Homo sapiens: one gene and its partner. The protein of the gene in region 1 purifies or fractionates together with the protein of each later gene. This does not show direct contact. Each region holds a gene or a part of one and is shown in the gene's direction. Other genes may lie near its edges.

Region 1 (3,678 bases):
GAGCATCTCACACTTGTTAGTATCTGGTTGTTGGGCCAGCCGTGCCTCCTCTAGATCTGGAGCCAGGCCAGGCAGGGGCCACGTGTGGGCCAGTCAGCCACTACAAGATTTTTGCTAAGCTTTGGGCTGTTGGCAGCATCTTGGACCTCATGCCTGGGCCTGAATGAGGCTCTTTCTTAAGTGTTTTTACAAGTTTGTGTTTTATTTATGGAGTGACTTATCCCTTCCATTCAGAGCAGCCCCACCCAGCCAGCCCTTCAGCCTCTGGGCTCCTGCTGCTTAAAGGCAGAGCCGCCTGGTTGGTCTCCACCCTGTGCATTGGGAGCCCAGCCACCATGCTGACGGGTATTTTTCCTCATAAAGTTTATAACCAGTTATTTATATGAATCTTTGTTATGTCCATTTGTTTGTATTGCGTATTTTGATTATAAAATAAAGTATCTTAACAGACTCCTCAGTTTTCCATACCCTTCCATCACCACCACCACGCTATTCTACCCCTCACTTTGGCTTGTTAGAGCCAAACACCTGGGTGTTCAGCCAGGTCCCCCAGGCAGCAGCGTGGAGGAACCTTTGGCAGGTCCAGCCAGCCTCATGTCCCTATCTATCTCTGCCACCTCTGCTCCTCTGTCGTTCTATAGAACCAGATCTCTTCCCACTCACTTTCTCTTGGGCAAACCTTCCCTGAGTCATAACAGAAGTTTGTCACTGGAAAGTTTCAGCAGTCCTCTCAGGAAGTTGGCAGCCTCTGGGTTGCTGTGAGGAAGTGGCTTTACCAGAGCAAGGGTTGTCTTTCTGGGCTGTTAACCTGCCTGAGCCCTGGACCAGGGGGACATCTGAGAAGCATGATGTTGAGTGCCAGACAGCTAGGTCTCCAAAGTTGGGCTCGTTGCTGGAGTCTGCCCCCTCAACCGCTGAATTCTTGCTGGGAGTAGTAGCAGTTTGGGAATGCCATCTGCAGCATGGAGCTGGGGTTGAGCTTGGACCACCCCAAGACCTGGGGTGGATCTTAAGGGTCAGCTTGAGCCTAGGCTCTCGAGTCCTGACATCATCCTCTACCGCCACGCTTTCCAGCTGTCAGCCTTGGTCTCCATCTGGTTCCTTGAGGGTGTGGCCTCTGCGTCCTGCTATCACCCTTCCTTGTCTAAACCTTCCCACCTGAGTGGAGAGGAACTTGGGGGAAAATCTCTAAGCATGGGCTCTTCCTGCTGTCCTATGCTTCCTATCCCCTAGGGTTAGTGGTGCGTGTTGGGTGGTGGAGCGAGGGATCCCTTGGAGCAAGGTTCTTAGAGAACTTTGGGTCTGAAAGCAGCTCAAACCTTCCAAAGCCCCAAGCTTCCCTGTGCTATTAGAGCACCTCCTCCTGGAGAGAGCGGCTCTCGTGGCTGGGGAGTTGGATGCACCAAACCTGTGTGCGGCTGGAGAGGGAGGCTTCTGCCAGACCCTCTCCCGGGCCTGTCCTGCCACCCAGGCCCCTCCCCAGTCTCACACTGAGCTCCAGATCAGGGAAGGGCCGAAAAGGACGATCAGGGCAGCCGCAGAAGGGGCGCCCTGCGTGGGACGGGTCCGTTGCGCGCCTGGTAACCGAGGGGGAAGGGAAGGGGCCTCTGGCGTGCGGGGCGGTGTCGCGCAGGTCCCACCCCGCCTGCCCGCGCCGCCCATTGGTCCCGAGCGCGATGACTTGGCGGGCGGAGCAGGAAGGAAACCGCTCCCGAGCACGGCGGCGGCGTCGTCTCCCGGCAGTGCAGCTGCCGCTACCGCCGCCCTCTGCCCGCCGGCCCGTCTGTCTACCCCCAGCATGAGCGGCCTGCGCGTCTACAGCACGTCGGTCACCGGCTCCCGCGAAGTAAGTGCGCGCCCGGACTGGCGCTGGGGGAAAGCGCAGGGCTGTATCCCGGTGCTTTGGACCCTAGCGCCCGGGACCCACCCCCAGGACGGGGGCGGGGTGGGGGGAGTGCGTCGGCGAGGTGCTGGGCACGGTCTCCCGGACCCGGTCCCGAGGCCCCATCCTGAATGTCTTCATCGGGCATCCTGGGTCCTTTGCAGCCGCGGCATGAACTTCCCGTGCCCATCCCCCATCAACCCCACACCCATTCTCTGCACTCCCACTACCGGGCTGACCCTGACCACGACCGCAGCCTGCCCTCCCCTCCCCTCCCCACCCTGAGCCTGATCCCACTTCCCTTCACTCTGACCCCCTCCCCCGTGGCTGATAATCCCTCTCTTCATCCTGCACCACCTCAAGCCTGACTCATCCTCCCAACTCCTAGAGGCCAGAACCCTCCCCTAGTGTGGAGGGGAATGGGGGGACAAAAGCTCCTGGTCACAGCCTCTCTCACCCTGCCCAGCATTTCCCCCATAAATCCTCCAGCCTATCCACTAACCCCTACCCACCCTCTGTCCCCAGATCAAGTCCCAGCAGAGCGAGGTGACCCGAATCCTGGATGGGAAGCGCATCCAATACCAGCTAGTGGACATCTCCCAGGACAACGCCCTGAGGGATGAGATGCGAGCCTTGGCAGGCAACCCCAAGGCCACCCCACCCCAGATTGTCAACGGGGACCAGTACTGTGGGGTATGGGCTGGGGGACGGGGGGGTGGGGGGAGTGTTGGAAGAGGACTCTAGCCAGGGTCATATCTGCCACAAAGCACTTGGGCCCCCTGCATTCAGGTGACCACCCCTCGCCTCCCCTTCTCCAGGACTATGAGCTCTTCGTGGAGGCTGTGGAACAAAACACGCTGCAGGAGTTCCTGAAGCTGGCTTGAGTCAAGCCTGTCCAGAGTTCCCCTGCTGGACTCCATCACCACACTCCCCCCAGCCTTCACCTGGCCATGAAGGACCTTTTGACCAACTCCCTGTCATTCCTAACCTAACCTTAGAGTCCCTCCCCCAATGCAGGCCACTTCTCCTCCCTCCTCTCTAAATGTAGTCCCCTCTCCTCCATCTAAAGGCAACATTCCTTACCCATTAGTCTCAGAAATTGTCTTAAGCAACAGCCCCAAATGCTGGCTGCCCCCAGCCAAGCATTGGGGCCGCCATCCTGCCTGGCACTGGCTGATGGGCACCTCTGTTGGTTCCATCAGCCAGAGCTCTGCCAAAGGCCCCGCAGTCCCTCTCCCAGGAGGACCCTAGAGGCAATTAAATGATGTCCTGTTCCATTGGCACTGTGTCTGGTTGGTTGTGGCCTGGGCCTCCTGGGTCCCTGCCCTGGGCAAGGTTGGTAGTTGTGACTGTGCTGAGACTGCTCTGTGGGAAGGGTGGCTGAGCTGTTCTCTTGTGACTGTCACCTCTGTGTTTGTTAGTGCATGTGTTTGGATATGTCTGACACACAAATACCTGTATGGACCAGTGGTTTCTGGAGATGTCTGGGTGGGCCACCCTCCAGTTCACATGCATGTGTCCATATCATGCTTGTGCCTTGGTGTGTAGTGCACATCTCCATGCCTGTCAGTGAGTGTGGCCATCCCATGCGCCTGTGTTGGAGCACAATGGCTAAGAATGAGTGTATCATGGGAGGTGGGTACCCAGCTGCAGTTCTGCTAATTTGGGGGCATGGGTCTAGTGGCAAAATGGCTTTGTGCGGTGTTGAAGTGTCCCCACGAGTTGGTGGGTCTGTGCCTGTGCACAGGTATCTGCTGGCTGCACACATACACAGTGAGGCTCTGCTGTCCCAGCTG
Region 2 (3,748 bases), on another chromosome or scaffold:
TATTCTTCTTATAAGGACACCAGTCTATTGGATTCGGGCCCACCCTAGTGACCTTGTTTTAACTTAATCACCTCTTTAAAGACCTTTTCTCCAAATAAGGTCACATTTTGAGATATTGAGGGTTAGGACTTGAATGTATGAATTCTGGAGGAAGGCAATCAGCTCAGACCATAACCCATTCTCCCCAATAGTCTTCATAGTCCCTTGGTTGGTCCCAAAGAATTGCTGAGTCTACCCAGCAAAGCCTCAGCCCAGCCCTGCACCTCCAATCCTGCCCCTCTACTTGGAGCCTCAGCACTAATTGCTGTGCTGCCAACCTCAGGCTGCTGCAGCCCTTGATGTGTCTTTGTGTTGTTAGAAAATGCAGGTCTGCTCCAGAGCCAGCCAGCAGAGCACAGGCTGATTCTCCACATGCCCTCTGCACAGCCTGGAGGACCACAGCAGGGACCCCATGGAGGCTCACACTGGGAGACCCCTTCTACACCTCCAGGCTGTGGGGGTCCAGCCCCCAACAGGGCAGGAGGCCCCTGGGGAGGGTGTGGTTTTTGCCCCTGAGAAATCACAGGTGTCTCCTAGTATAGATAAGCAAGCACCCTTCTTCCAATCTGTCAATCTGTCCTACATCGCAGATGACACTATGGCTCCAGTTCCTCACCCTGCCCTCCTCCTCCTTCTCTCCCACTACTAACCACCTGGGCAACCCTAAAGGCATCCCACGTGGGCCTTCCCAAGCGTGGCATTGGGGGCAAGGAGGAGGAGGGGAGTGAGAGAAGGAGGATGCTGTCTTCATTAGTTTGCAAATGATTTGTGTGGTCAGGATATGTAAATAAATAATTTATATACATATAAAAGAAACGAATATAACACACATATTTTATATAATATATATAATGTTCATTTCTGTCGCTCTGTGAAATATAGGTTATTTTATAATAACTCATGTATGAGACTCTGTCTTGCTGGCTGGTGTTCCCACGCTGTGGGCGAGGGTGCTGACCAGCTGGTGCTCCTGGCCAAGGCCTCTGAGGGCAGCCTGTGCTCGCCGGTGCCCATTTGGGGGCGCATGGCCTTCTGCTTGCTGTCCAAGGTGGACCTGAGGATGTGGTCGCATCGGTGACCTGGGCATGTAAGGAGGGCAGTCCAGGTCAGAGGGCGTGGGGCTGCTGAGCTGAGGAGAGAGGGTTGATGGGCTGGAGTCTGGTGGCCTGCTCTGCACAGGGAGATGAGGGGTGCTGGGGACGGGTGGCAAGACGCTTCAATCTTCTCGCCAGACCCTCTCAGTCCTGTACCGGGACTGGCAGAGTAACAGATGTGAATGTGCCTTCAGTCTGCACAACGCTTTTTTGGGACAGTTGAGGGCCCACTCTGATGCCTTGAAGACTCTTCAGAGCCTCACGATGTTGGGACTGAACAAAGGATGGAACCTCTTCCCGGAAAAGCTGAACAGGACTAAGGCAAGGAGACCTTCAACCAGGCCAGGGCCAATGCCCAGGCTCCTTCCTGGCCCCACTGTGGTTGTGAGGAGGGCACATCAGCAAGGCTGCTGGAGCCGCTCGCCTCCTTTGTTGAGGTCGTGGGGACCCATTCCCATGTCCCAGTCCATCTACTCTTATCCTTCCAGCTCAGGGTACAAGCAGGGCGACAGATATGGGATAGGGGAGAGACAGCAGAGATATTAAAGTCCTTGGGCTGAGTTTTGTGTTATAAAGGGCAAGGGAAACACAGCTCCTGGGAAAACCTGAAAGTGCGTGAGCGGGCACGCAGGTATTTTCAGAGCTCCTCTTCCCTTAGAAAAACAATCCTTCCCATTGACATTTGAAAGGTATTTTACATGCATGTAAATCTTGCACTCATTGAAAAACGCACAATGGCATCCCTGTGATGATCTTTGAAACTTTAGCTTTTACTTTTTACTTTTTTTTTTTTTTTAAAAGAGACAGGGTCTCGTTCTGCTGCCCAGGCTGGAGTGTATTACTTTTTAAAGAAATCGAGCATTTCCTTCCATCCTGGCGGAATTTGGAGCAGCGACCTAACGTGCCGTTCTCTTTTGCACCACTAGGTGGCCCCTGGTGCTCTCAGATGTCGGCCAGGCTTGCAGACAGGTGAATGCATCTCATTGGCTCCAGGGAGGCATGATGCCACCGGGCAGCTCTTTTTAAGAGAAAAGCCAGAACCGGTGGAGCAGCGACCCCTGAGCAGTGTTCTCTGTGCTGAGCGGCGGGACTGAGCTGTTGAGTTAGAGCCAACATGAGTGAGGTGAGTGATGCTTCGACCTGGAGAGGGAAACTTAGGAGTGAGAAGGGACCTCGGCTGAAGGATTAGTCTCAGGAAATGTGAGGGACTTAGCAGTGCTGAGGAACAAATTAATCCTGTAATTATTTGCTTGGAGAACTGACAGGATTAATCTCTTGGTTTGAATGGTAAGTGCAGAAATTGGTTAAGTTTGCAACTTCTACAATTAGCCTGAGGAGGAGAAAGGTTTGCTTTCTGATTGAATGGTGACTTTGAAAAGTGCTTTGGGTTTTAGAGCTCAGAAGAGAAAGCCAAATGTTTTATTCTCTTACGAAGATGCGTGTCTTTGCATGATTCCCGCGGTGATACCTTTCAGAATGTGAGTGGGCAGGTGGTCATCTGGTGAATGCAAGCCATGGAAGGGAAGGGGACAAGGTGGGGAAAGGGCTGGCCGTTGGGTGGCATTTCATGGCTCAGTTGTACAAACTACCTCTGCAGTTAATCAGAGCACCAGGGAAAGAAATGCAAAAAGTAGTAGGAACTGGGAAACATCCGTGTGTATAGATCTGTGGCTCTAAGACCGGAGGCGGCCCCGGCAGAAGAAGAGCTACAATTTTGCAAATCCAAAGTCACTTCTCTAAACTTGTTTATACAGAATGTGTTTTACTGGGGCCAACTGACAGCACGTTTGTTTTTCTAAAATCATCTTCTCCTTTTTTCTCATCTATGAAGCAGATTAGCGGTGGTACAACACCATTCTCTAATTCAACTCAATAACCGAGCCAAATGCATCTTCATTTCCTCTTGGTTGGCACTTAAATAATTACTTTTAAAGATCTTTTATCTTCTCTGTCTCTTTTTGACAGATGGATGATTCTTTTCTTGGAAGTCTAGGATAAAATTAACAACTTCAGAAATAAAATGCCTCCTCCCTGCTTTTATCTCTCTGATGGGTGATTTTTGATGTAAACATGACAAGAAGAAGAGCAAAGCACTATAAAACTTAGAAATGGGGTTTAGGACAAAGCCAGGGGTTTGAGGCAGGGAGAGACCAACTGTGGGGTGGAAGATGGGAATTCTCCCACCACCACAATCAATGGTACCTGTAACAGCAGCTAACACTTGCCTAATGGTCTGTGTGCCGACAGTGTCAGGCTGTCTCTGCATCTGTCACCTTCTTTGAACCTCTCAACAACTCCGTGCAGTGGGCACCATTATTATTCCCAATTGACAGATGAGGACACTGAGGCACAGAGATGGGAACTAAGTGGTTTGAGGTCACCAGCTAAAGAACAGTAGAGCCAAGACTTGGGCTGCAATGCTGGGTGGTTGACTGCCGGGTGAATCTTGATGTCTAAATGTGTATGGAATTTGCTGAACAGAGGGGATGGCAGAGGTTGGAGGAGGAGAGGGGAGGTGAAGAGAAAGAAAGAAAGGAGCTGGGGCTCTGAAATAGAGATGGAATGATGAGGATGAGACCTCCATTTCCCACATGCTAGGAGGAGGGGCTTTCTGC

The links.
Region 2: the proteins of SH3BGRL3 (region 1) and PCP4 purify together in Homo sapiens (co-immunoprecipitation; 2 studies listed by BioGRID and IntAct, with this or other methods). This does not show direct contact.

Annotation. Positions count from the first base shown.
Region 1 is NC_000001.11:26,278,358-26,282,035, forward strand, and holds SH3BGRL3 (SH3 domain-binding glutamic acid-rich-like protein 3), read left to right. Parts: upstream 1-1,728; 5' UTR 1,729-1,798; coding exon 1,799-1,846; intron 1,847-2,407; coding exon 2,408-2,575; intron 2,576-2,700; coding exon 2,701-2,766; 3' UTR 2,767-3,165; downstream 3,166-3,678. UniProt on the Homo sapiens protein: Could act as a modulator of glutaredoxin biological activity. May play a role in cytoskeleton organization.
Region 2 is NC_000021.9:39,865,255-39,869,002, forward strand, and holds the start of PCP4 (calmodulin regulator protein PCP4), read left to right. Parts: upstream 1-2,183; 5' UTR 2,184-2,247; coding exon 2,248-2,256; intron 2,257-3,748. UniProt on the Homo sapiens protein: Functions as a modulator of calcium-binding by calmodulin. Thereby, regulates calmodulin activity and the different processes it controls.